Regions from separate parts of the Homo sapiens genome. Here regions 1, 3, 4, 5, 6 and 7 are each linked to region 2. Evidence: fine-mapped expression QTL. A gene starts in region 2. Each other region holds a variant in brackets. All regions are shown on one strand. Distances are between the middles of the regions.

What was found. PIP is the estimated chance that this variant, and not a neighbour inherited with it, causes the effect. A credible set is the group of variants that fine-mapping cannot tell apart.
Region 1: its variant is the best candidate, but not a certain one, in a credible set for the expression of MAP3K20 in blood mononuclear cells (TOPMed, PIP 0.86).
Region 3: its variant is the best candidate, but not a certain one, in a credible set for the expression of MAP3K20 in monocytes (Fairfax 2014, PIP 0.84).
Region 4: its variant is the best candidate, but not a certain one, in a credible set for the expression of MAP3K20 in whole blood (TOPMed, PIP 0.84).
Region 5: its variant is the best candidate, but not a certain one, in a credible set for the expression of MAP3K20 in sun-exposed skin (GTEx, PIP 0.80).
Region 6: its variant is the best candidate, but not a certain one, in a credible set for the expression of MAP3K20 in B cells (CEDAR, PIP 0.67).
Region 7: its variant is the best candidate, but not a certain one, in a credible set for the expression of MAP3K20 in whole blood (INTERVAL, PIP 0.58).

What each region holds. Positions count from the first base shown.
Region 1 is chr2:173,225,394-173,229,460 of GRCh38, forward strand. All of the region lies in intron 11 of MAP3K20 (mitogen-activated protein kinase kinase kinase 20), which reads left to right. All of the region lies in intron 2 of MAP3K20-AS1 (MAP3K20 antisense RNA 1), which reads right to left. Among named protein-coding and RNA genes, the nearest start is that of MAP3K20-AS1, 55 kb to the right of the region's middle. The variant G/A (reference allele first, on the strand shown) is at 2,474.
Region 2 is chr2:173,073,317-173,077,383 of GRCh38, forward strand. MAP3K20 (mitogen-activated protein kinase kinase kinase 20) reads left to right here and starts at 2,530. Exons shown (of 20, transcript NM_016653.3): 1 at 2,530-2,686. RefSeq lists silencers at 2,225-2,274, 2,355-3,094.
Region 3 is chr2:173,234,355-173,238,421 of GRCh38, forward strand. MAP3K20 (mitogen-activated protein kinase kinase kinase 20) reads left to right here. Exons shown (of 20, transcript NM_016653.3): 15 at 4,019-4,067. All of the region lies in intron 2 of MAP3K20-AS1 (MAP3K20 antisense RNA 1), which reads right to left. Among named protein-coding and RNA genes, the nearest start is that of MAP3K20-AS1, 46 kb to the right of the region's middle. The variant TA/T (reference allele first, on the strand shown) is at 1,912.
Region 4 is chr2:172,960,966-172,965,032 of GRCh38, forward strand. RAPGEF4 (Rap guanine nucleotide exchange factor 4) reads left to right here. Exons shown (of 31, transcript NM_007023.4): 8 at 157-263. Among named protein-coding and RNA genes, the nearest start is that of MAP3K20, 110 kb to the right of the region's middle. The variant C/G (reference allele first, on the strand shown) is at 1,919.
Region 5 is chr2:173,043,345-173,047,411 of GRCh38, forward strand. All of the region lies in intron 29 of RAPGEF4 (Rap guanine nucleotide exchange factor 4), which reads left to right. Among named protein-coding and RNA genes, the nearest start is that of MAP3K20, 30 kb to the right of the region's middle. The variant C/A (reference allele first, on the strand shown) is at 1,573.
Region 6 is chr2:173,267,511-173,271,577 of GRCh38, forward strand. It overlaps MAP3K20 (mitogen-activated protein kinase kinase kinase 20), which reads left to right. Exons shown (of 20, transcript NM_016653.3): 20 at 1-505. It overlaps MAP3K20-AS1 (MAP3K20 antisense RNA 1), which reads right to left. Exons shown (of 8, transcript NR_033882.1): 2 at 4,001-4,067. Among named protein-coding and RNA genes, the nearest start is that of MAP3K20-AS1, 12 kb to the right of the region's middle. The variant C/T (reference allele first, on the strand shown) is at 2,291.
Region 7 is chr2:172,943,101-172,947,167 of GRCh38, forward strand. The region is part of intron 6 of RAPGEF4 (Rap guanine nucleotide exchange factor 4); the gene reads left to right. Among named protein-coding and RNA genes, the nearest start is that of MAP3K20, 130 kb to the right of the region's middle. The variant C/T (reference allele first, on the strand shown) is at 1,618.

The sequences.
Region 1 (4,067 bases), 150 kb after region 2:
GACCAGCCTGGCCAACATGGTGAAACCCTGTTGCTACTAAAAATACAAAAATTGGCTGGGTGTGGTGTCACATGCCAGTAACCCCAGCTACTAGGGAGGCTGAGGCAGGAGAATCACTTGAACCCGGGAGGCAGAGGTTGCAGTGAGCTGAGATTGCACCACTACACTCCAGCCTGGATGACAGAGTGAGACTTCATCTCAAAAAAAAAAAAAAACAAAAAAAAACAACCCGGTAGCATTGTCCCTTCCCCACTGACAAACTTATCAAATCCAGAAGCTTTAGAGTTTCGTCTCTAATTATTTTTCTCCTGAACAAAATTACCCAAGTCAAAACAAAATGTATTTTTAGAATTACGGCAGCATACGACCTGAATTTTGTGAGTTTCGTGGCTTTATCTTAAATCACCATTTCCCTAAAAATGGTTTCTTTCTCCTTAGAAATGCTGGTGGCAACTTGATGAAACAGCCAAATGCACCAGGGCAGGTCACTTTCCCATTACACTGATTCCACAATTAAAAAAAAAAAAGAAAAAAAACTCATTGAGATAGCTACAGTTCTATAGGTTAATTTAAAGCCTCCTTTTTCTACTCATTTTTGAAAGCAAAATTACATTTTACTATTTTACATAACCAGTGAAAAGACGTTGAAAGCCTACAGCTCACTGTTTTTGGTGCTCTGGAAATGTTGAGGGTGGGTTTTTAACCAGTGATTTTTAACGTGCAGTGAATTTGTTAGACTTTTAAACACCAGCTAAGGTAGTCAAACTTGATCCCCATTAAAAATCAAGGAATTAGGGGTCGGGGGAGGGTTTAGGAGTGATCCAGAATGACCTCCCAGAATTACTGTGCGTACAACTTTATTTTTCAGAGTTTTCATTGGAATGGTAAGAGTTTTATGAAAGACAGTTTTAAAACTTATTCTGAGTTAAATATTAATACTTTAAAAAATTATTGTACTAGACTTATTGCAGCCTTTTGAAAGTAGCAGAGTTTCATCATACCACATATATAACAGAGCATAAATTTTCTATAATCAGGCACCTTTTGCTGCTTTTGAGTAAGACTGTTTTCCTGTTTAAGTGTTAAGCATCGCCAGACATAAAAATCTATTCTCTCCTCTCGATTGTAGCATAGCCTGACAGCTCTAGATACAGCATTTCTATGATGAAAAATGAGTATCCATCAGGAAATCTAGAAGACTAGCCGTGTTTTCTCAGACTCCACCTTTGTTTGCACTCTGTTGCCTGTGAGGAGCTTTCTGGCATGTGATTATTTACTTCAAAACTAGAGTTCCAAGCACCTACATTAATTATTTTATATTGTGTGCAGAATAGTATATCTTTTAATGTCAGATATGATACACTGCACATATTGCTTTTGCACTCTTAAAATTTTTGTACTAAATAATAGAAAATATTTATATTCTTTGAGTGTGAGCTTTGAATAGATGGCATTATCACTTTATTGTTTTTTTAACAAAAACTTTTTCTCAATTATTCTATTGCAATGTTATTCTGAGCAAGTCCTATGCCAAATATCTTGTATAATGTTTGTATGGAAGATTAAATTTTACTCTTGTGTGGTAAGACTATTTCAGTTACTGATTTTATAGTTGGAATTTGATATTCCAGCACAAAGTCCACAGTGTATTCAGAAATCCAAGTTGGTGTCATACATTTCATTTTGATGTGAACTTTTCTTTGCTTTCCTTTGTTCTAAGACTCCATTTTGCAATAAACGTTTTGACAGTAAATCCCTTTGTTACGTGTTGCTGTGTATATAAGATCCCTGTTAGATTGGATTCCCAACATCCTTTGAAGGAATCGTTGTCACACGCATGCAAACAAGTGTTAGCTTTTCTCTCCTAAAGTCAGTGGGAGTGTAAATAATAAATTTGTAAAGTGATGGGACAGTCATGGGGTGGATTTTTTTTTTATTCCCTAAAGAAAGAAAGGCTTAGAACTCATCCTACAGCAGATACACTGATATGTTAACAAGGTACAGAAAACATAAAGGAAATGGTAAGCCACTCTGTGGCTGGAGATCATTAACTCTTATCCCCCGTCTTGCCAAATTCAAGCTGTCATGAAGCAGTGCCTGGCTCCAGCCTTCCTCTCACTGATCTTTGCTAGCATTGTGCAAAGAATCCTGCTGGAGTGAGCGTCCAGCTGAAGCCAGTGCCTTTCCCTAGGCATCGTATTGGAGAACCATCCTCAGTGTGCAACCAACCCCCTCTCCTTTCAACATTAAAACCAAAGATTCTGGTTGTGATTAGTTATTTCATTTACAACTTCTATTCTATTCAAAAAAATACTTCTTTCTCAATTTTGTTTAGTACAACATTTAGGAATTTTATAAAAATAACACTACACATCCCCTCCCCCCAACCCAGTTTCTATAAAGGTGAGCCTTGATGCAGGAAAATATTTCTGTAACTCAGACTGTTGTTTCTTGAACGAACCAAAAAAGTTTC[G/A]TATTTCACATTTGCTTCTGTGATGGGAGAAGGGAATGGCATGATTCTGCAGCTGTGTCCAGCTGCCCTGTGAAGAGACAAAATTGTCACCTATTTTTCTTTGATCCAGTTCAGCTTTAGATTCTGTTCCTCAAATCTTTCTCCTTTCCCCATTATTAAAGCAAGTGAATGTGTGTGATGACTCCTACCCACCTCAAGTGTTTCCGAGGAGGCAAGGGCAACCCTGGAGGGAAGGGAAGCACATGCAGGTAGCAGAGTATACGCAGAACAGGATCGATTTCAGTGTGTACTTTATGTCCTGACAACTTGTCTATAAATACTCAAACCTAAACATTCATATCCATTTCAGCTAGTGGGTTTTTCCGCTTGCCTTCCCACCCTGTCTGCCTCATTTACCCTTTTTCCTCCAACATGAACTCACTGCCTTCCATTCCCATCCTTCCCTCCTGTCCCTCCCTCTCCCGCCATGCCAGGTTTTGCCTTGTTGCTTCTCTTTACCCGGAATCACCTCTCTTCTTGCCCTGAAGGACCCAGCTCAAGCCGTGCTGCCCTCCATTCTCCCATCTTATTTTATGAATCCCTTTGTGAATACATCTGTCTATGGTATACCCATAGACATTGAACTCTATACCAGAGAACTTAGCATTCCAGTAAATGCACCCTTTAATTTTATTCATTCTTTAAAATGACTCAACAAAAATTTACCAGATACCGTATGCCAGGCACTATGTTAGGCATTAAGTAAACCGAGATTCAGGTGACCTTGGAATCCCCCAGGTATAATTTATAACTGTATTAGTCCCAGTTAAATTGAAAGCTCCTTGAAGGCAGGGGCTGTGCCTTTCCTAGCAGAATTTTGAGCATGTGGGTACAAAATACCTGTAAGTTAGAAAGGTTAACTCACCTACCCTATGATTTTTATACTAACAGTAAAAGCAACCAAACTCAACTTTTTTTTGAAACTCACTCACAAGAAAATATTTGTAACAGAAGATGAGTGACAATTTGCCATATTATCTCATAAGCAATTCATTTTTGGGGGGCAAGTTAGGCTAGTTAAAGCTAATAGCTGTACCAAACTCTAATTTGACTTATAGGACACACAGACTTCTAAAAATTATGTAAGCATTTATTATTTAGATGGCCATGGGGCATATATTGAAGACAGTAAGTAGTTCTTTGGCTCTGAAAATGGTGCAGGCTGAAGTCCTCTGGAGGCATCTTCATTTGTACTTGTGAACCTCACAGGGAGGTATTTTAATCTGTTTTAGTTAGAGCAACTCTGCAGCCTGGGTTTCTTAGGACCGTACCAATTTCCCATGTCCTTCTTCATCCGTGAGTGCTAACATTTGGTTTTTAAAATATTGTGCAAATGAGATCTTTCAACACTTAGAAATTCCCCCTTGAGAACAGGCATAATACATGATCTGGTTACTAAGTGGTTGCTTTGGAATTTTCATTAATAATCCAACAGTCCTCATGTTGGCTGAGACTCTGAGGAAGACTCTAGGTCTCTGAGAAAATGTCAGAAATTGCTTGACTGCTGAGGCTTGATTGTGGGATGTAAAAACCAGGTACCAACAAAGGAATATGA
Region 2 (4,067 bases):
ACTGCTAAGAGTACATCTATTTTTAGTGTGGAAACATTTGAAGTAAAGGAATAGGCAGGTTTGATAAGAGAAGTTTGACTAGGTCTCTTTTGTTATTGCTTTTCACACGGGTAAACCTAAACTCTGCCTGGTGAGCATTAACCAATTCAAAAAAGATTTGAAAGTTCAAAAAAGCAGTCGGTGTTGAGAATACATACTAGACCATATTTATTAGGTCTGGGGCCTAAAAAGATCAGTATAATCAATAGGAAACAGGCAGCTTGACAAAAGAAAAACCAAACTTGAGGCAATCAGTTTATCATACAATCATTATATATTTATTTCAGCTATGGACAATACATATGCAGATACCACACAATATAAGATGTGACCTCAAAGGGCTTGCAACCTATTTGGGAAGACAAGAAAATGTCTACTAGATTATCATTTAAGCATGTTTCTGAAACTAATCTTTAGTGTTCATTGTTCCTGCTGGTTATTCTCTTGGCCTAATTATGTGAGGAAAACAGAATGAAGGCAAAGGGATGGGAAGCAAGGGCAATGTGGCTAAAAATATTGATGCTCTTAAGCCATGTGTTCCAAATTTAAAGCAATACATTCATGGTTTTAAAGCTGGAACCTGCAACTAACTTCTAATTAGTCCCTCTTATTTTACAGAGGAGGAAACTGTGGCCTATCCTGCAAAGCACTCTAGCTGATAACTGGTAGCTCTAAGACCAGAAGTCAGGTTCTCTGACTCTCAGTCTAGGGTCCTTTCCAAAACAAACAAGTGCCTCTGAAGGTAAGGTAAAATGACTGGAGTCTTCCTATGCCTGGGGTCTATGCTAAAGAGCCTTAGTTTTTCCTTGAATGGATAGGATGGAATTATTTGAATTATTTTATTAGACCTGCATTATACATTTTTTTAGCATGGCAATTTTCATCAATTCTAATTTCTCAGTTACCAAAATAAAATTTATTAATGCTAAAATCTCCAGTCCTTATCAAAGGGCAAATTAATCAGACTAATAAATTGTTTTTTAACCTCTACTCATTCATCCCTCAACTTTCATATCTTTAACCTATTGAATGACTTACAAATTTTCTATTTCACTCTTGACCTCTTTCCTGAATTTCAGTTTCATATTTCAGTTGCTGCATCTCTACCTGTTTTTACTCCTATGACCTCAAACTCAACATGAAGCCAGCTTCCCTTTCACGTATTCCTATTTTTGTCAATGACACCATCATTCTTCCAGTCATCCAGGTCTGAGATCTTGGCATCATCTCTCTTCTTCTTCTCTTCTAAATCTTGTGGGTTACCAATTTCTGTGGCCTCTTGCTGAAACGTTTAATATTTCTCTCAATTCCATTTCTTCTTTTTTTTTTTTTTTTTTTTTTTTTTTTTTTTTTGAGACAGAGTCTCACTTTCATCCAGGCTGGAGTGCAGTGGCGCGACTGTGGTTCACTTTAGCCTCGACTTCCCCAGCTCAAGCGATTCTCCCACCTCAGCCTCCCGAGTAGCTGGGACTATAGATGTATGCCACCACATCAGGCTAATTTTCTGATTTTTTTGGAGATGAGGTCTCACTGTGTTACCCAGCCAGGTCTCAAGCAATCCTCTCAGCTTGGCCTCCCAAAGTGCTGGGATTACAGGTACCATGCCCAGCCCATTTCTTCTTTTTAATTCCATTTCCTACATCCTAACTCAGGTCCTCATGATCCCACAACCGGGTGGTGACAATATCTACTACTCATCCTGGTTCCATCCTAGCAACCCAACCTACAACTACTGTGGACTACTCTCTCAAAATTACCATTTAAACAGAATCACAAACCCCCATTTCACCCCTTTGATTCTAATTTTTCACAGCTCCCAGTGTCCATGGATAATAAAATTCAAATTCAAAATCCTGAATAATGTTGCCCATGCCCTTGCAACCTCCTCTCACTTTTCCTTCACAGAACCATCCTCCCCAATCAGAAATTTCTTTTCTTCCCAACGCCCACCTCCACCTTTGGCTTAGGCCTGTAACGGACTCTGGCTCCTCTTCTGAATTCTGCTCTGTTAAAATTAGCAACTAGAGCAGCAGACCACGGCCCCTCCTCAAAATTCCAGAGGTACCTACTGATCTTTCTAGAGAGGCAGCCTTCAGACCTATGTTCCCAGAAATCTCTACGTTTGTGCCTTTCCCAACTAGAGAATTAACTCTTGCGGGGCACAAAACAGCCTCTATTTCTTTGCGTCCCCAGCGCCTGTTTGTTGAAGACTGAGTTGAAGGAGTAGCAGGTGGTGTTAATTTGTCAAAAAGATGAGTTAAGGTGCTGGGGGCGAGGGGGAACACCCCCACGGCCCTCCCCCCACAGCAAGGCAGGTGTGTCTGGGGGCCTCGGCGGGTGCCGGGGCGCGGGGCGGATGGTGCCCCCCGGGCGCAGGCCAGGGAGGCCCGAGCGCCTTCCCCACGCCCCGCTCGCCCGCGCGTGTGAGGGGAGGGCGGCCCAGCCGTTTCGCGCCGGGAGGTAGGTGGTGCTGTTGCCGTGACTGTCTTCCTCATTGGCGCCGTGCAGAGAGGCGGAATGTTCAACTCCTAACTGCAGCGGAAACGTGGGAGCCGCGCGGGCCGCTGTCGTCCCAACCCCCGCCGCCCTCGTCGCGCGCGGGGCCTCCGCGCCCCCGGCTGCTGCTCACGCCCCGCCCGGGAGCCAGGTAGGGGTCAGGCTGGAGCCCGCGGAGGGCGGGGAGGGAGGGGGCGAGGCCCGCCGCGCTCGCGAGTCGTCCCTGCGTCTCGGGGCCGAGGCTCCGCCGGAGCCCGGGAGTCTAGGCGGCCTCGGGAGGCTCCTCGGGGCTCCCCTCCCCGACCCAGGGCCCGCCCGGCGGCGGCGGCCGGAGCGAGCGGGCGGGCGAGCGAGCGAGCGTTCGCGGCGCCCGGGAAGTCCTCGCGGGACCTTGGCCGCGGCGCCGCCAAGTGCGGTTCGGGAGAGTTCGGGCCGGTCCCATGGAGAAGTTGGCGCCTGGAGGCGCGGGCGCAGGCCGGAGCGGCCCCGGCTTTCGCGGTCCCGGGCGTGCGGCACGGGCAGGGGCTCCGCGAGCAGCAGAGCCGGCCAAGCAGCGGGTGACTGGGGCACTGTCGGGAGGCGAACCGCGAGGCCCCCAAATCAGGGTAGGGTGCAGGCCACTTCCCAGCACTCGCTGTGCGTGCGAGGAGGGACGACGAACTTCTGCTTTTCTAAGAACTCGACCGCGAGCGGTGTTGCTTCCCATCCATTTTCCTTCATTCTGTTTTCCTCACACAATTAGGCCATGCGAATAACCAGCAGGAACAATGAACACTAAAGATTAGTTTTAAAAACATGCGTAAATGTATCCAGAGCCACCGCTCCCCGCCCTTCCTGCCCCGGGCTTGGGCAGCATGAAGCGCCCGCCCTCTCGGGCTTCCCCCTTTCCTCCCACCGGAGCCGGGGATGTCTCCTTTGGCGACCCTCAGGCAGCGGCTTTTTGTGGGCTCCCAGACCTGCACCAGGCCCAGAAGTGCTTACCCAGGCCGTCGCCTCGTCTGGCCTCGCTTGCCCATGACAGCTTTCAGAAAACTTTAATTCAGGACTGGCTAGATGACATCCGATTGCCTAAAAAATTTTTTTAAAAAGTTATCTCTGTTAGATCGCTGAAAATGTTATGTTTCTGATGCGCTTTGAGATCGCGCATAAGTACTGTTTATGGGGAACTTAATTACTATTTTTGTTAGTTTCTGTAATAATGAAAGCAACACAATTTAGGGGCCCATTCCAAGTATGGTACAGTAAGCAGCTCTCGATACTGGTGTGTGAGAATCGTCTTACAGAGTGAATTTGAGGATGTTTGACTTAAGATTGTTGAAAACTGTACTCCTTCTTTAACCCCGAAGCTGTTTTGGAAGAGCCTTCTTGCTTCCTCGACCTTCGTTGAAATGAACAGCTAGGATTTAGTGGATCCAAACCTCCAAACACGTTTAAAGACAAAAATAAACAAGTGATTCAAGGCTAGTTAATGTCCTCTTTGTAGTAGGCCTATCTCCACAGTGAAATTTCACTTGTTTTTCAATTTTCCAAAA
Region 3 (4,067 bases), 160 kb after region 2:
AAATTCAGTGAATGTCTACTAATTGTGAGACTGGGCCTATGAAGATTCAAAGAAACCTGTGGTTAAGGAATTTACATCTCAGAGAAAAGATTAAACGTGCACACAGCATCCCCTTGGCAACTGGGAGGAAAGGACCAATTCATTACCCGGACTTGGGAGAGGCCATGGTGGGAGATGGAGAGGGTAAACTTCACAGAGTGGGTGGCCCTTGAGCCGGATCTTGGAGGAATGACAGATTTTGGAATGTAGACCAGGAAAGGAAAGAACATTAATCTAGACAGAGAGAACAAAGAGTTAAGAGAAATGGAAGAGAATGTGGAGGAACAGAAAAGAGGAGTCCCGACCTACGTAGCATAAGCAGCTCCGTCTGCAGAACACGGGTGATGAGTAGAACGCATGGCACCTGAAGTGGAAGGAAGGTGGGGCCGGATCCTGGACAGCTTACAACTTCAGGCTGGGGGGAAAGAGCTGGAATTTGACCAGCTGTTGGGAGTATTGAGAATTGACAGGTTTACACTTTGCTTCTGGAAGTTTTAAAATGTATTAAAAAGGCAAGGCTGGGTTTTGAAAAAACAGGAGGGTATAAATGTGGAGAATAATAAGCACTGCAGTGTAGCAAAAACGCGAATGGAGAGAAGGGGAAGATGTCACAGGTAAGAGGGCTGTTCTCAGGCTCAAGAAGGAAAGCACAATGAAGTATTGATTGTTGTGGACGGACTGGCTGGGGCCGCTGTCGCAGGCAGTAAAAGAATTTACCAAGACAGTCGTAGGTAAAGAAAGGCAGATTTATTAGAGAAAGTGTGAAGATGTGTTGCAAGGGTGCAATGGGCAGCACAGCAGAGAAGGGGCTGTCTGCCAAGAGGCAGGGGCTTGAGGGAAGTTTTATGGGATCATACTGGAGGGGCTACGTCCAGATAGGGTGTGCAGACGAGGTCATGCTTCTGGAGTTACTTGCAGAATGAGGTATTTGGGAACAGGTTGTTGTGATTGTCTGTGATTAGCCGTCTCTCAGAACAACTGTTATCCCCCACCTGGGACCCCCTCCTCGTTGTTGCTTACTTATTAGGACTCCACACTGATATGTGTGGCAGCATAGATGAGCCTTGAACATGATGCTAAATGAAAGAAGCCAGACACAAAGGTCACATATTGTATGAGACATCCTGAATAGGCGAATCCATAGAGACAGAAAGCAATCAGTGATTGCCAGCTGCTAGGGGGAGGAGGCAAGGGTTCTTGACTGCCTAATGGGAGTAGAGCCCCCTTTGGGGGTGATGAAAATGTTTTGGAACTAGATAGAGGTACTGGTTGCACAACATCGTGAATGTGCTAAATGCCATTCAATTGCCCACTTTAAAATGGTTAATTTTGTGGTATGTGAATTTCACCTCATTAAAAAATAATAATAAAGCAAAGGAAAGCACAGGCACCTCTACACCCTGCCCAAGAGTAGTCTTCTTCCAGCTAGGAAGCTTTCTGTCTTTGGCAGAAAGGATGTGTGTGGCCAGGAAAGTGAAGAGGAAGACAGGAATATCTGTCCACAAAGTAGGAAATGAGGAGAGAATGCTGTTACAAAAGTCAAACGTTGGAAAAGCTTTAAGATAGAATCGGTGGTCGAAAGGGTCTAAGGGCCAGGCACTGTGGCTCAAGCCTGTAATCCCAGCACTTTGGGAGGTCAAGGTGGGCAACTCACTTGAAACCAGGAGTTCAAGACCAGACTGGGCAACATGGCGAAACCTTGCCTCTGCAAAAAATGCAAAAATTAGCCAGGCATGTGGTGCACACCTGTGGTGGTCCCAGCTACCTGGGAGGTTGAGGTGGGAGGATCGCTTGAGCCCAGGAGGTTGAGGCTGCCATGAACTATGATTGCACCACTGCACTACAGCCTGGGCAATAGAGTGAGACCCTGTC[TA/T]AAAAAAAAAAAAAAAAAAAAAAAAGGCAGGGACAGGGGACAGGGGTCTAAGCTTGCAGAGAAGCCAAGGAATATGCAGAGAGAAAAAGCCCTGTTGGAAGCAGCCACTTAAAAGTAAAAAAAAAATTATTTGACCCACTAGAGTGGAGTCAGTGTAATGTTCTCTTTTTATGACCTCTGCAGAGGGTCTGCCCAGAGCTCCAAATGAAGGAGTAGCCTGCATCTGTTGGGGGACCTAACACTGCCCTCAAACTCCTGAGTGAGTCTGCACTCAGTCATTCTAAAGACAGTCATTCACAGAGGGGCAGTCTCCAAAGTGTGGAATGCGGACCCCTCCCCCTTACTGCCAAGGCTGGGGCTGTATGTAAGAATGGCTACCCAGTGGGGGCTCAGCCAACAGGTGACCACTAAACTCAGCCAGAGCATGGGGATTTCCAACAAGTTTATATGAGAGGGAAAGATAAAGGGAAAGGGTCATGTGCACTTACTCTAGGAGGGCCCTGCATAGACTCTCAATTAAGATAAGTAATGCTCCAAGCTGGGCCTTTGGGGATGAGTAGCTCCACGCTGGAGGAGTCCTCCTGGTCCTTGTCAGAAGTGTTTCTCACACACAGCCTGATGGTAAGAATGCATCCTTCCTTTATTCTTTGTGCTTTCACTGAGGAAGGCACAATTGTTGTGTACTTTCTCCAAGAGTCTCTCAGTCCTTAAATGGTAGGTGATCAAACTGGACAGTGGAGCAGTATATCCACCTTTTTTTTTTTTTTTTTTTTTTTTTGAGCTGGAGTCTCACTGTGCCGCTCAGGCTGAAGTGCAATGGTGCGATCTTGGCTCACTGCAACCTCCGCCTCCCGGATTCAAGCGATTCTCCTGCCTCAGCCTCCTGAGTAGCTGGAATTATAGGCGCAGGCTACACCACACCTGGCTAATTTTTGTATTTTTAGTAGAGACAGGGCTTCACCATGTTGGTCAGGCTGGTCTCGAACTTCTGACCTCATGATCCGCCCACCTCAGCATCCCAAAGTGCTGAGATTACAGATGTGAGCCACCGCACGCGGCCCCCACCCATTCTTTTCCTTTGTGTTTGTCCCTCCCTTTAAGCCTGACCATGGCTCCCTTCTTCTCTGAGCCTGCAAGCCCTCGTGTGGAGGAGTAGAGTGTAAGAAGTAGGACTGAACACCCAATAAGTGTTCATTACATTGTCAGCTGTCAACAGTTTTTATTTTGCTTTAAAATAAAATGCATCTAATTTTCTCAGGTTGGTACTTTTTTACTCTCTCTGCAATCAGTTCTTAGAAAATCTGAACTGTGCCTGCTGAGTATCCAAAAAATCATCATTTAAATTGTCTTCCTTTCCTTTCAGATTTGTGTTTCATTGGCAGAGGGGATGTTGGACACATATCCAAAGAAATGTTCTTATAATGCAATCAACCTTTTAGTGAGATTCTAGCCTTCCTGAAAGTCTGGTGTTATGTGCTGTGCTGCTTTGCTCACTGTTATTCAGAGTGGCACCTGCATTCTGTACAACAGAACATCCACTTCTCAGTACTATACTCTGGCGGCGTTTGAAAAATTGTTTTATTTATTGCTTAGTCTGAGGTTCAACATCTTTAAAATGTCTTCTTTCTTGGCCTCATCCCTGTAATCCCAGCACTTTGAGAGGCCAAGGCAGGAGGCCAGGATTTCAAGACCAGCCTGGGCCACAAAGACCCCATCTCTACAAAAAATAAAATAAATTAGCTGGGTGTGGTGGTGTGTGCCTGAGTCCCAGCCACCTGGGAGGCTGAGATGGAAGAATCTCTTGAGCTCAGGAGTTCAAGGCTGTGGAGAGTTATGATAGCATTACTGCACTCCAGCCTGCACGACAGAATGAGACCTGGTCTCCAAAATAAAAAATTTTTAAAAATTTCTGGTCCTTTAAATAATTACAAACCACCTACACTGCTTTGGACAATGAGATTTATTCTAAATAGACGTTGGATATAAATGCCCCCAAGATATTTTATGAACTAGGTAAATAAGGAATGTTTTTGTTTGTACCCAATGATTTTAGTCTTCTCTTGGTATTACTGGATCATTAATAAAGTCATATGATTTTTTTTACAGTCAGCCATTGAGAAATTAACCCATGATTACATAAATTTGTTTCACTTCC
Region 4 (4,067 bases), 110 kb before region 2:
GTGACATATCACACAAGTGAACAAAGTAAAGCACTGAGTGAGTTATGTTTTCCAAGCCAGAGTCAGATTGGAAAGTGGTTTCAGGATTTGTTTGGTTTGTTTTCCTTCTATAAACACTTCTTTCTCCTCCCCTCCTTCCACCTGATTACAATCCAGGTCCCTTCAGAGAAGATCCTCAGAGCTGGAAAAATTTTACGAAATGCCATTCTCTCTCGAGCACCTCACATGATAAGAGATAGAAAATACCACCTAAAGACATACAGGTATGTGTGCTAATTCTAAAGGCTGTGCCCCGCTCATATTCATGTTTAGTGAAAATGGAACAAAAATGCTTCTCCCTGTTTTCCATGTGGGCGCAGCCCATTTTGTAATGCCTTCAGGTTCTGGAAGGTTAGGCTTGTCTTACATCTCAGCTTAACTGCAGTTGTTTAATTATCCTTAATATTCCTAGCACCTCCTAAACTAAGTTGCTTGGATATTGGTTTAGTTGTGATGAACAAAGAGAAGAAAATTTTTGTAATTTCTTTTTGCTAGTGACTTTTAGGAAGCCTACTAGATTTAGATCACATTCAACCAACATTGACTGCACACTTATTTATACTCAAAGACCTGTACCAGGTCCCTTTTGATATATTAGCTCATTTCATTCACATAACACTGCTAGACATGTAGACCATTTTTCAGATAACAAAACTGAGGCTTGGAGAAATTAGTTTTGCTTGTCCAAATCACAAGTCTAGTGAGTGGCAGGGCCAGGATTTAAACCAAGGTTGGTTGATTTCCAGATTCAGTGATCATTTCATTCAGTCAGTCATTGATTTATTCACAAGTTTAGCACTTACTGTGTGCCAGGCACTATTGTGTTTCAAGCTCTAAGAATACAGCAGTGAACAAAATATGCAAAGTCCTTTACAGAGCTTGTTTTCTAATGTAGGATTCCATCGTAGCATGCATACAGTAGGATACACAACTCTGTATCACATATATATTCATATAGAATATGGATTCCTAATTATAGTTGTCACTGGAGTTAAGAAATGACAGAGATAAAGGCAGAGATTTCATGGTTAGCTGAACCTTCTGGGATGACTGAACCATGGTGGGCCAGTTAAGAACTCGAGTCTAATCCCTAACTTTTGATTTTCAGAATTCAGCAACTTTTGATCAATTCAGCAAGTGTTGAGGAACTAGAATTGCCAATATGTGGCACACAGACCTTCACTCTGTCTTCCCAAACCCAGGGCTCAGACATGACTGCCCTCTTTCAGCAATCAGTGAGACTCTCTTTCCCATTTAGCCTAGACATGACCTCAGAACCCATCAGCATTGGCATGAGTCAAAACCCATTTGATTCACAGGAACCAAATTCATAAGACACACTGAAAAACTAGAATACAAATTTCAAAGTTACCATGAAGGATGCATGTCTTCTACCAACTATGATAGAATCTACAAAGGTTCTGGTTCAGGAATTTGAGCATAAATAAGTGCTCAATAAATGTTAGTTGAATGTGATCTAGATCTAGTATCTACAGGGTTCACCTTAAAGCAAACCTACTCAAGGACAGAGATAGAAAAATATATTGCAAATTCTTCCTCTTCTGATTATTTTTTCTATACTCCATGCAAACTAATACTCTTCTGCTTGCATTTGGCATGAATATGTTAGAAGACCAAAATTGACAGTGTATTACATTTAGATTGGCCTCTTGTTGACCGAATTTTGGAAATGAGATGAGACTTGAGAAAGTGCCTTAGTGTCATCAGTAGCATATTCCACTTAAGACACATTCCATCTCTTAGGACAGATTGATTACTTAGCCCTTTTTATGTTGATATTAACTAACTACTATTTTGGATGTTTACATTTGTAAGTCCTGTTCTCCAACACCAGAAGTTGATTCCTTTTCTAGTCTGT[C/G]GACCTGTATTAGTCTGTTTTCACACTGCTATAAAGAACTATCTGAGACTGGGTAATTTTTGAAGAAAAATGGTTTCATTGACTCACAGTTCCACAGGCTTAACAGGAAGCATGACTAAGAGGCCTCAGGAAACCTACAATCATGGCAGAGGGCAAAGGGGAAGCAGGCACATCATACCATGGCAGAGCAGGAGAGATAGAGAAGGGGGTGGTGCCACACACTATTAAATGATCAGATCTCATGAGAACTCACTCACTATCACAAGAAAAGCAAAAGGGGAAAATTTGCCCCCGTGATCCAATCACCTCCCACCAGGCCCTTCCCCTGAAACATGGAAATTACAATTTGAGATGAGATTTGTGGGGGACACAAAGCCAAACCATATCAGGCCCCCTACATACTGCTATAATTTTGAGAAAAGTAAAGGTTAAAATAAATAAATCAATGTGTCATATGTCTTCAGAGAGAGTTCAACCTTTTAAATTCATTCAGGGGATCTCAAAGATCTCATATGGTTAAAGGAACTTTTTCTTTTCAAAATTGTATTACTTTTTTCCATAATTTAAGATGTGATTGTGCTTTGCCAAGTATTGACTTGCATTAGGGAAAATTTATTAAAATATGTCATGTTTGATGATAGATAATGGAAACTAGAAGTTAGAAACCATAATCTCTTTTGTGCTCCATTGTACTAAGATTTTAAACCCCTGAAATATAGGTGTTATGTCTGTTCCATGCCCTGTGACACAAATTAATGACCTATTGGGAATAACCACAGGACTCAACTGGAAGCCAGAAGCATGATTTCTTTTTTCTGCAGGACAGTCTGAGTTCCTTGTCCCAGATCTTATACTTTCCAGTTCCATCCTCTCTCTCCCTCCTGCTTCTCACTCCATTATATTATTGCCACAGTATTCGGGGGCTGAAGCCTCTCCTGGTGCAGCATAACCCCCCAAAATAACTATACTAGCGGTCTGCTGTCAATTCTAAATCGTCTAGGGATCATTAATGGAAAGGATACCTGTGATTCCATCAGCTGCAAGTAGCACAACTGTGTGTCTTTGTTCAGTATTCTGACTGCAAGATTCTTAAACCCTTTGTAAGGACTCATCAGACGCTCTGGGATCATCTCGAGTCTGTGTACTCTTTTTTTGTAAAGGTAATCACTGAATTAAAAGCCAAATGAAATTGATTTTATGTATTTTTACATGATTTTTACGATTAATCAATTCTCAAATTAGGAAAGAAATATAATGGAAGGTCTTATGTTTGGTTCAGAATGATTTATAAGTAGGTGACTGTGCCCACTGAAGCTCTAATGTGCGGGTATAGACTGTAATAAGGGCAGTCCTGGAAATATAATGGCCTTCTCAGTACACCCTCCCTGTGAAATATTCTGAAGTCAGGGTCAACCCCAAATCAAGGAATCCCACAATTCCTCTGATAGATTTCAGAGGTCTAAGATTAAAATTATTACAACTGGAAAAGGCTTTAGAGGCCATCATTTGCTCCTCCTATTTTTTTTTTTTTTTTTTTTTTTACGGCAAAGAAAGTGAGAACCAGAGAGTTGAAACCATGTGGCCAAAGTCACATAGCTAAGTAGCAGACCTAGTTCTGTATCTCATGTCTCCCGCCACTTCAAGATTGTTCCCAAAGTGGCACAGAACCATGAGTCTCCTCCAATTTCAACTAGAGAGGAGCTCCTTAGCCCGTGCCCCAGAGGTGGTGCTGTGCTTAGTATGAGAAGGGAGGCCACCAGTGATTCAGTCCCAGCTGCAGGCAGCCAGCTGCTCTGTGACTCCCTGCCTTGTTCCATCATCCCTTGGGATTGAGCCATCACTAGGACTTCAAGATTCTATTTCCTCTCTTGAACCATCATGTTGTGGATACCTGCCCCCTTCTCTCACCCCATGGGGAATTTCTGTATTCCCAAATATGTGAGTGTATATACTTATGCATTTCCTAACTAATGTATGCAGTTTGCTTATCCAGACCAACTCACCACAGAAGGGCATCTTGGGGACTAATGTGTGAATATACAGGAAGCCAGAAAGCATGTGGAGCTCTTCAGATGACAGGCTCTGGAGAAGTGCTAATGCTCATTACACAGAACTTTTTCAAAGAGATTTGCATTGCTAATTGCTTGTT
Region 5 (4,067 bases), 30 kb before region 2:
CTGTTGAGGGCAGGCATTTAGAAGAGGCCTGACGGTGAGGAGCCGCTTCCTGAGGGATCTGAGCAGAGGCAGAATAATAGGCTAAGAGGAAGGCTATTGTGGCCGCTGTCTGGGAGCGGGAGGTCCTAGAGTGGTACCAATGAGGTGGCGTGGCCTGGAGGGCCTGCCGGTCAGAACTTGAAGAATGAAGTCTTCTCTTCCGCAGTGGGAGAGCAAAGGGGGAACTTGGACTAGGGCACAAGAGTCAGTGCAAGCTGGCTAGGAAGGTGGGGGCAGCCACAAAGTCCTGGTAGGCTATGTCATGTCTTTATAGGAGTGAAAGTGGAACTTGGCTGGCCTGCTCCTGAGGGGAGGACACCACAGAAGGGTGACGCCTGCCAAGAGCCAGGCCGCAAAGGCCCAGTCTGAGAACAAGGTACCTCTGACACCTCAGCGGACTCAAGGGAAATTCCCTGCATCAGAGCTTGAGGGAAATTTGTGTTTGGGATGCCGGCCTCAGAGCCTCTGGCTTGTGCCAGGCCGAGGTGCAGACAGTGGTCACCCCTTCCTCTGGATGCTGTCTTTGTACTGGTCACTCTGATGCAGGCTGACCCCTAAATTGGGGCTCAGCTGGAGAGAGTTCTTGGCTTTCCTAAGGAAGGAATTTAAGAGCGAGCTGACAATGAAAGACAGCAAGTTCATGAGAGGAACAGTATACAGGAAAACAAGTGCTCTGTAGACCGAGCAGCGCTGTCTTATAGGCAGGGTAGCACAGAGTAGCACTCACAGAGTGCTGGCCGGCTCTATTTATACCTACTCTAGTTACATGCTAACTAAGGAGCGGGTTTTTCACAAACTTTCTGGAAAAGGGGCCAGGAGTTCCTGGAACCATCTAAGGTAGCTTCCCGGTCATTGCCGTGGCATTTGTAAACTGTCATGGCGCCGGGGGGCGGGAGGGGGGGTGAGTATTGTCTTATGCAAATGCATTATAATTCCTAGTCCTAGCTGGTTTGGGCTGGTTTCTTTGCTACATCAGCAGGGTGGTGACCAAGGCTGGGAAAACAAATCCTGCTGATCTTCTACCTCCACTCTGCAACGCAGGCCCCAGGAAGGACATCTACTTCTGTGCCCCTCTGTTTTCAGCTCTAAAGAAAAATAGACGCGTGACATAGTCACAGAGTTCTTCACTCACCACATCATTTTTCCTTTCTGCACTTCCCTCCTCGAGTGCATGTCCTGAGGGGAATTCATCAGCTTTCAGTTGGGCCCATCTCTAAGCCCTGTAGGCCACGAACTGTAGGAACATATTCATTTTTGCACATAAGCTCCGAAGACCTGTACTTAGGATTAGTCCCAAGAAACATCAGTTTAAGCGTGGCGACAGGGGGGTTCAATTTGTTCCCCTACACGGATCCGGAGCGCCTTCTAAAGGAGGCGCTCTAATGTGGGGCATGTTTGCCCCACATTTACTCCTGAATTACCAGTTGCTGTCTTAATGAGCTATTTGCTCAAGGGAATGTGTCATAAACCTCAGGCTGGCTACTGGGGAAAAAAAGATGAGAATCTGTGCTTTGGAGTAATCAGACACTCCCC[C/A]ACTCCGGCCTGGCGTTATAGAAAGTTGCCTGGCCAGCTCCAGGCAGGCCAACCTGCTCTGGCAGGACCATGAAGCGTAGGGTGTAATTTTTGGTTTCACCCCTGCTGCAGCAGTTGGATAATGAACCCTATATCTCTTTAACCTTTGTTTCTGCCAGGCTAGACTGCGAGCACCAATGAATAAACAGCTGTCTACCGTCAAAAATAACATAGGCTGAAGTTTGTGGAAAGATAGACTCTAACTAGATGGTTTTAGTTTTTAAAATCCTCCACTCTGGTCCAAGAAATCAACTGTACGTGCACAGAGCAGAAAGCTGCATCCACAGCAGCTCAGCAAAGGAGGCTGAGAGGTTTAATTCATGAATACTTCAACAGATGTCAGTGGCATGACTTCTTTTTAACTGTAGGCCCAGTATAGCATCATCTAGATCAAGGAAAGAAGAAAGATCATAATTTCTCTGCACTTTACAATTTGTTTAGTCTAGGGCACCATACTAGAGACGGTTTGGAAGAGAACCAAAACTGTCTTATGAAGAATTGTTGAAGAAATTGAGAATATTTAGGCTGAACAAGAAAAGATCTGGGGGTGTGAAGATATCCATAACAGTTATATCCAAGTATTTGAAGACTTGTCCTGTTAAAAAGAAATTAAACATGTTTGCTGTTGGGTCATTGCCGTGGCATTTGTAAACTGTCATGGTGCCCGTGGGAGTCTTATGCAAATGCATTATGAGCTCCAAGGATAAATGAGCGAAAAGTAAAAGGAGAAAGACTTTAACTCAAAATGATAAGTTTTAATAATCAGAGATGTCTAACAATGAAACAGGCTATTTTTGGAGGTAATGAGTTACTCATTGCTGGATGCATTCAAACAGTGGGAGAGCCACTGTTTATAGGCAGGCTGTAGAAAAAGCATTATGCACTCTGGAGATGGTTCAAGGAGGTGACTCCTGAAGTCTCTTTCAGCAACTCAGGAGAGTGCCTTGTAGTTGGGTGTAGTTGTCAGTAACTGCTTAATATTACATGTGTTAATGGGTGCAAAAGGAGGTGAAGTTAAAATATTAAGTTAACCCTTCTTTGGCCTTGTGAAAGCATTTGTAACTATGCATTGACCGGGAATGCTAGTTAGATTCACACATCATCACTGTGGGTTCACACCATTAAACATTATTGTCCGGACCTCACAAAGGAAAAGAATGGACCTCGCTGTGAAGCCAGATTTGGATTTCGAAGTTAAACTGAAGTTATCTTTGAGAACAATTAAAAAGGATACGTCAAAATTAAAACCATTGTTAAAATTAATCAAAGATTTAGAAAGGTAGAATGAACTTCAGGGCTGGAAATTACTGATTTAAACAATTGTTCTCACATTTTAAACTACATGAGCTAAAAATTATGAAGTCTCAGAGTATAGCTTTAAAGAGTAGCATAAAACCAAAGTCAGAATGAAATGTTTTAGCTTTCAAAACTAAAAAGCAGAACAATTACTCCCTACAAAATGGTATAGGAAGAGGTTTCTGACCCCTGCTAATTGTTTTATTATTCTTCAGAGGGGCATACTGGCAGCATTTCCCAGGGTTTTCGGTAATTACACTCCATTCAATATCTGAAGAATTACAATAATTCTACATGGAATATACTTGTGCCCTTCAGATGCAAAGCCTTTAGAGAAGTGAAAAAACAACTTAAAAGTAAATTAGCAGGGAAGTTATCATAGTTACTATTTATTTCACGGCTCCATATATCAAGGGCTAATTATACATTGTACGTTACATTTTCTGGGAGGGATTTGTGATATGTTTCTCATGCTGATCAACAGATGGATGTGTCAGTTTTCACGATCTTTGATGAAGTGAAGTTCTAACTTTTCCAATTGCCTCTTTGTGTGCGAAATTATCCAATGCAGGTACATGTCACTTCAGGCTTGCTAGAGTCCTCAAAGCAGTAGTATTCAGTGAGGTATTATGATGCTTGCAGATAATATATTTGTAAGGCCTTGACTCATCTATGATTTTTTTTTACACTATGTAAGCTTTCTCAAAGTCATTTTCTTATACTTTGGCAAGCCAAGGGTCCGTGAGAGAAGAAAGGGTTGACTAGAATTACATAGCTGCTCAGAGATCGGGGAGTCTCTTTCCCTGGGTGGAGCCTTATCAATTTTCTGCTAGTGTTGTAATTAATCTATTATCTCCACAGGACCCCCTTTAGAGCCTGAGCAGTAAAGTGTCCTGAAACATACATAGTGACCAGGAGTGCCAGCTATTGTTCAAATACCGTGACATTCTGGCTAAGAAATGGAGCGTAGGTCTCATCAGTGTTTTTCCCCAGGGGATAGGAGTCTCTGTTTCTGTCCATTTTCTTTTCTCTTTTCTTTTGTTTTTAATTGAGCTCAGCACAAAAGATTCCCTTTTAAGTCTTTATTGCAACCAAAACTTTACAAAGAAGTTAAGATGATCACTTAGTGACCAAATTTTAAAAGGTCAAATCAATTATAA
Region 6 (4,067 bases), 190 kb after region 2:
CTGAATTTAATGTTGAATATGATGCATATCTCATTCATTACGATTTATCAGAAACCAAAGATTTAAATTGCCTAGATTTGTGGTTCTTTCTCTTCCTAAGTTCCCAGCGACTGCTTTCAAATACTATTTTCTAAATTTCACCAAAGGAGCAAAGAGGATAAAACAACACTCCATAAAGGCCTCTTGGGATGTCAGAAATCTAAAATCTAAAAGAAAACAGACACAGAGCAAGACAATAACATCACAAGCTAAAAGCCAGAGAAATTTAAAATTACCAACATCCTTGTTGGAGTAAGACAGTAAATATCAGCCTTGCAGCAAGACAGCTCTGAGCAGCTGTGGGCAAAGAGGTAAACCAGTGGGGGTGCAAGGAGACTGTCTGCAGCTTAGGGCAGAAATGGTGGGATCCAACTTGTGAAATGCTTCATGTTTTACAAACCAAAAAGTCAGGTAGCAACAAACTTATTGTATGTCAAATCAATAAATGTTACTTTCAATATTCTGAGATTCTGTTCAGCATTCACTAACCCTGTTTAGCATTCACTAAGCCCTACATAGGATTCTCAGTGCTCTGTAGAAATCCAGAGGACACTCTTCTAATTCTGTGGGTTTGAATTCTTTTTTAAAAGAAGCTGGTCATCAGAGTACATGCATTTGTTCTCAGGGTAGCTCCCCTGCTGTGTGTGATACATTACTTGAGGCCTGGTGGGGAAAACTGTATTTCGGTAGCATTAAAGTCAACGTGGGTGGGGCATGGTGGCTCACGCCTGTAATCCCAACACTTTGGGAGACTGAGGCAGGAGGATTGCTTGAGCCCAGGAGTTCAAGGCCAGCCTGGGTCACCAGCCTATCTGGGTCAGATAGGGAGACACCATCTCTACAAAAAAATACAAAAATTAGTTGAGCATGGTGGCATTTGCTTGTAGTCCCAGCCACTCAGGAGACTGAGGCAGGAAGATCACTTGAGCCTGGCAGGTCAAGGCTGTAGTGAGACGTGACTGCACTGCAGTCTGGGCAACAGACCAAGACCCTGTCTCAATCAATCAATCAATCAATCAATACTAAAGTCAAAATTATAGGAAATGACCTTTATTTACAAGGGAAGTTGTCATCACCTAAACATTGATTCAACAACTTGATTTTATAAAGTTTTACTGGGTGCCAGATGTATTTACAAGCAAAAGCAATGGGAATGGTGTAGTCAGTTAGTGAGGGCCTCTTTTCCATCATGTGTAACCAACTTCTAAGGTTTTCAGCTCCACCATGATTCTTTCTCATGAAGCTATCAAGCACAGCCTGTTTTCAATTATTTTTGCTTTTTGTCCTTCATTTAAAGTAGACTAATGCAAAATATGCTATCTTAATATCATGCTGTTTCTAAATAAGCAATAAAATATTTTCTGTGATCGGAATTTTTGGATAAATAGATGAACAGTCTTGACCGAGTCACTCTGAAAGGAACACAAAGTATGGCCTTCATTGTGAAACAAAATTTGCATTCTGGGGAATTGCTGAAGAGTCTAGTTTAAAAGGCACTATGCAGATCGTTGCTAGTTTCATGCCACTTTCTTCCATCTTGCTTTCTTCGGTTATGGGGTAGGGAATCCAAGCTGGTAATAAAATAACTCAATGATCTCAGCCCTATTTAGTGCAGTCAGTGACTGCAAAGAGGTTATTCCACCAGCCCACAAAACTGACCACTTTGTAATATCTCATGGAAAAATACTTGTCAGCATCAATGCTCCCAGACAAAATCAGAGTAAGAACATCTGCAGTCTGCTTCTTGACTGTAAAGAAATAATAAGTTGGATGTTCTATTTTTTTCTTTTCCTAATGATGCTTATTCACCAAAAGTCACTTGCCAGGTTGAAAGATCAATGTAAGTCAAGAGCAAAGCAGGGATTAACAGGATTTTTTTTTCCCCATAAAAATAAATTAGTAGCCAACAATGAGAAACTATTAGTTGCAAGGAGTGAGGTGGTTAAGACCAAAAAAAAGAAGAAGAAAATAAAAAGGAAAGGGATATTATTCTAGGATTAGGAGAAAAAAATTACAGTAGAACCAAATCGAAAGAGTATATCTTGGACAGGGAACCTCTAAATGTGGAGATTTTCCCTAAATAGGCTTCAGAGCTAGTTTGGAAGTGCCAAGTCTACACTGGTTGCTACCATCGAGGCAGTCTTTAGTCCAGGCAAGGCCCAGACAAAGCAGGATGTTTAGCTCTTTGCACAGTCACCACATTAGCAATACCATGGACCTAGGCTGAATAACTGGATAATCCCAAATCTGT[C/T]TAGGAGAACTGGAGATTTTTTTTTTAATCAAGGACTACTTCTGAAAGAAATACAATTAGCAATTGTTTTCAGCCAATTTATAATGAATATTGCTCATAAAAATAAAAAGTATAATATTTAAAACTATTTACAGTAAAATTCAGAACAGTAAAATCTGACCTGGGAAAATTAGGTAAGAAACAGTAACTATAAACGAAAACTCACAGTGGCAGAAGCTATAATTGGTAACGAGCAGTATGAATAACAACAAAAAATTGATATGCAAATCTTCATTGTAAAATTAAAATTGAAAATAATCGATTCCATGGGAAAAAAATCAGTACAATAAAAAATCTGGCCAGGTGCAGTGGCTCACACCTGTTATCCCAGCACGTTGGGAGGCTGAGGCAGGAGGATCCCATAAGCCCAGGAGTTTGAAACATGGGCAACATAATAAGACCCTGTGTCTACAAAATATACAAAAATTAGCGAGGTGTGCTGGCACATGTCTGTAGTCCCAGCTACTGGGGAGGCTGAGATGGGAGGAGCTCTTAAGCCCAGGAGGCTAAGGCTGCAGTGAGCCAAGATCATGCCACTGCACTCCAGCCTGGGTGACAGAGTGGGAACTTGCCTGAAAAAAATAATACACAAATGGGAAACAGCATTATGTTGGATAGGAAACCAATCAGGAAATTAAATTGACATGACATTCATTCCATGAAATGCTTTCTTGACAAAAACATTTCTCAATATTTATATAATTCCGATCAAAATGTTTCATGTATAAGTAAAGTCAAAATGTCTCCAGGATCAAAACAGTAGGGTCAGAATCTCCAATAGTTCAAAATGGCAGGGTCAAAACATCCTGGATACACCTCAAGGCATTCTGACTTAACTGCAACTTTTCCAATTCAGTTGTACCAAAATATTTTATATTTGATAAGCTTTTTAAGTACCTTCTCTACAATTTATCCTTTTACTTCAACAAGTTGGTACAGATGTGGTATGCTTCTACAACTCTGGTTCTCAGAAACTACTCAATTTTAAGATGTCATGATGTAGCTGTGCCACCTTGTTCAGGATGTAACCTCCCTGAAATTTTAAATTATAGAGACTGCACTTAGGAGGTGTATCAACTCTCTTGCCATCATTGGATCTGAGAAACTACAGTGAAGCTGGGGTGCCCTGGGGAAATTAGAGCGAAAGACCTGGACTCAGCTTCTTACTATTTGCTGTTATTGGAACCGGCTTATGAGATTGCTAAAGTGGAAAAAGTGCCAAATGGAGGGTCAAAACTGTCAAGGCTTTAGTGTACCAGCTGACCAAATAATGCATGACCGAACCAACAGAGTTACAGAATGAAAAAGATTTATAACCTCATAGTTCATTCAACACTAAAATCAAGATTCAGTTTCTATAACCAATGTCCCATTACTCAAATCTACCAGAGAAACTCCTTGCCTACCACCACCCTGATGAAACTTACTCAGCTTTCAGGGTCCTGCTGAAGTCCTGCCTCCCTGGAGACCTCCCCCACAGCTCCAGCCACTTCTCCATTCTGCTCCTCTCCAAGGCCCTTTATCACACACTCTCTTGCACCGTTACTTCACCCTGACAAACCCACTCCCTTGCAGGTGCTCTGTGAGTACAGTGCAGTGCTGCCCAAGAACTTGACAATAAGGGAAATAAGACTAAGCTCTGAGAATTAATTGATGAAATGGCTACAATACCTCCCAGGCATGGAAACGTGCTGCAGGTACCAAGCAATCCAAAGAGAGCATGGGTCTTTCAGAGGCT
Region 7 (4,067 bases), 130 kb before region 2:
ACAGATGGGGCAAAACCTCCAAAACAAAAGCGTTTGGCATATTTGAGAAGCTAAAAAGGAAGAAGGGAGCCACTGAGGCTGGAGAGGCAGGCAGAGGTGATGTTCTGAAGAGACTTTGAAGCAGTGGTAAGGAGTTTGGATTTGTTCCTAGAAGAATGGGGAGGCACTGTGTATAACTAGAAAAATGACATGATCAGAATGGCTCTTTTTAGAGAATTGCCTTTACTTTAAGGGGAAGGTAAGCAAGGACTCTTTCCTCAGAGGGCAGCAGACAGTAGTGCAAGTGGTTAACCAGAGAGTTCCTATCCCAGAGCTGCCAGTTTCCTCATCTGTGAAATGGGAGTAATGGGAGCTCATCAAAGGGTTGTTGTTAGTATTCAATAAGATAACTGATGTGACTCACTTGGCACACAGCATTTGATAAATGTTTGTTCTTACCCTTGCCTGAGCCTGGAATAGTCTCTTATAGGAGAAATCCACAAACCTTCCTTTGTCTTCAGAACATACTTCAAATCTTGGGCATCCCTGCCTCTGGATTCCTGTGCTGAAGCACCCTAAACAAATGAGATAAGAATGGAATGGCTTTACTCCTACCCCACAACCCAAAATCAGACAAGAAAACCCTTTCGCTGTCTTGCCTTTCACCCGCTGTTTTTGCTTGCATATGCGTTTGCTTTCATAACCTGAGAACAGTTGTTGCATGAACCACATCCTCTCAGAGTTTTCTCTGTTCTATATCTTCATAAAGGTTCCCACATGCTTCTTCTTTAAAAATATGGTAAGATCACTGAGGTTAACCTCCTAATGATAATTAGGGAGAAATAGTTCTCCAAATGGCTACTTGAGTAAGAAGAAGCAATGACATTACCAGATAATAATAGATCAATTATTTATGGGATTTGCAAACAGTCAGTCACCTAAGGCATTTTACTTATGAAATTTTAAAATAAAAACACTTAATACATAGATATTAAATCACATGGAACAGGTTTTCCTCACTTCTAGCCAAACACACGGGAACATCTTAGGCTGCCTTCTGCTCCGTCCTTCCTTCTGTTCTTGGTAAATGCACCCTTGGTAAATGCAGGCTGCCAGTCTGCATCCTGGGAGGAGCCTCACTGTAGAAAAAAAGAAGGAAACTGACAGGTCTCAATAATCCCTTTAGGTTTATGCGATAAGACAGTCATGTATTGAAAGTTCTGTCTTTGTTTGGAAGAGATTTGCTTTAAAATGCAGCCCACCATTTTGAAAGTCCTAAGGGGCAGAAAGCAGAGATTTGTAGTGTTTCCATGTTAGGTAGAGATAGAGGCAAGAAAACAGGTAAGCAGTGGAGTCCTCTTATTATCTTGGGCAAGTGCCCAGGGTGAGCCTGTGTCCTAGCACAGCGAGTCATGACTGACTACCTTCCCACACTTCGGCTGTTTCTGTTTCATGGCTGCAAAACCCAACACTTCCAGAATCTGGAGCCTCACATAAGGGAAGCAGATGGGATTGAGATACTTGGAGATTTCTCTCAAAACAGGCTGATCTTAGAGTGATTAACCCCAGTCTGACTGAAAGCTTTAATCAAGGGGCTGTTGTAGCTGTGTCATCTTCAGCTGAACATTTCCCCTTTCT[C/T]GAAGAGATACTGTGAAAATCTGTCCTGAGGGTGAGCTACAATCCTCGTCGTACTTCCAAAAAAAATTATGTCCACAGTTTAAGTTCCTAGTCAATAAAAGAACACAAGAACATTTGATTCCTTCTCATTGTACTTGCAGATGTTGCAAGTATGTCTAAACCTTTCAAGTTACTTTGAATAAAAAAACTGTGACCTCCAGGTAGAAATGCCAGGTTTCTAAAGTATGCGTGAGCCTCCATCAGCTCATTATTGTGGGTTTTTTTTTCTTCTTATACACATTCTTGGAAATTAGAAAAATACAGAAAGGGGAAGGGAGGAAAATATGAGTGAAATCAAATTTTAGAACTTAATATATCATGCTACTTATTTCTTTGGCCTTTTAGAATACTGTTGGCATATCTAATTGAAACCATCATCTGTACTAGGGCAACTTGATGATAAAAGAAAACAAAACTATGTTTAGGGAACCTGGTTTATGAACCTGATCTGAAATGAACTTGATATTTTATGTAGTATGCTACTTTTCTGATTTGCTTCCATATTTTATATGGTATGCTTTTAGGACTTTGATCATGTTTGTTTTGATGAGCCTTGCAAAGGCTTAAAAGGTTTCTTGAAAACATCAATAGGTTTTTGCTATTCCAGGAATTTTGCCAAACCTAGATCAAATATACTACTGCCCTCAGGTTTCTGAGTCCTTAAAGGTTATCAGAATTATTTGTTTGTATATTCTTGTCCTGTATTTGTACTAAAATTATGTTTATTGTAGCTTTTGCCTACTAGATTGTTTGAGGTAGAAAAAAGTCTTTTACAATTTTCAATCAATACAGATAAATACGCTCACATGCAGAGGACTATACAAAAGTCAATCGAGTGCATTATTTTTAATTCAAAGTGTAGGACAAAGACCTTTTTTTCATGGTAATTATTTTACCTTTCCCAACTGGGAGTTACTATGCTATTAAAATAATGGCCTAAGGCAGTTTACATAGCATGCATTTAAATATTAAGAGAATCTATTTGTGTTTTTCTGTTGGACATTTTTGTCTTAATTGATCTATTTCTTCCACATTAATATGTATTAGTCTTAATAAAGACACTGGCTATGTTCAAGTGGCCAAAGATAGACCACTTTTCTAAGAGTTTATTCAGAAGAAATATCTCATCCAAAGTTACCTTCAATGCAAGCTTCACAATTTGACAATGTGCATTTGGAACCATAATCCCTGGCCTGGGTTTTCTACTTCAGGGAATTGATTCTGAGAAGATAATTCCAAATATGAGTGGGTAAGGGGAACTTTTGGCCTAAGTTTATAGCATATTAATACTACTAGCAAATCATTAAAAACTTAAAGGCACATTGACAAAAAAAATGTTAAATTATGCTGTATACATTTAAAGGAATTTTGATGGTTACAAAGAGTTTATAGCAACATGTAAAATTGCTTATGATTTAGCATTATGTAAAAAGGAAAGATACAAAATTTTATATAAAGTATGATTACACTTCAGTTAAAAATAAAACAAAACCCACACTTAGAAACAGGGGCTGAATATTAATATTCCAAAATATTAACACAATTATCTTTGACTGGTTGGTTTTGGAAGATTAAACTTTTTTATACTTTCCAATAAGCATGCATTATATGTAATGGAAAAATAGGAAAAGGTAGAAACCTATACCTGAGTATATGCCTTTACTACAATTGATAATCTGATTCTCTGTATCTATTCTTAACAATGGTGAATTTTTATCATCACATATACTGTCTTCCTACACTTTCTCTCACCTCCTCCCAACTCCAGCTGTAGGCTACAGCCAGACTAGGGGACTCACAATGCCTTAAACTCCCGTCTGTGTGACTTTGGCTCCAGCCTGCAATTCCATCTGCTCTCTCACTATCAAGCCCTGTTCATCCTAAAGACCCTGTTCAAATCCCACCTCCTCTGGGAAGATTCCTTGAACCACCCTGGACAACTGTTGCTCTTCCCTTCTTCCCCCAACACAAACCTTCTGACTCTATAAAATACTTGTGTATATGTAAAACGGTTCCACCGGATGTGCCTTTCATCATTTTGGGCCAGCCAACAGAGGAGGCATGGGCATCCCTCTGACCTTGAGAAGCCCCACCTGCTGATTTATCAGTGCTGACACTGACAGGTGACAAGTGGGTAACGACTACCTATAAAACTGTATGCATTTTTCTGACTGTTCATTACCTTAACTTAAAAAGTCAACTGTAGAGATTCTGCAACATGTATCATTAAATGTGCTTCACTTATTCTGAATTTAATACATTGCCTAAACGTATTTGTGAAAATTTCTGAGACTTGACATTCAGCTTGTACCTCCAGAAGCCTCTGGTTGTCTATTGACAACTGTGTGTTGTTAAGACTCAAATCATTGGGCTTCCTAAGGGTTAAATCTAGGAAGAATGTGATCATGTTA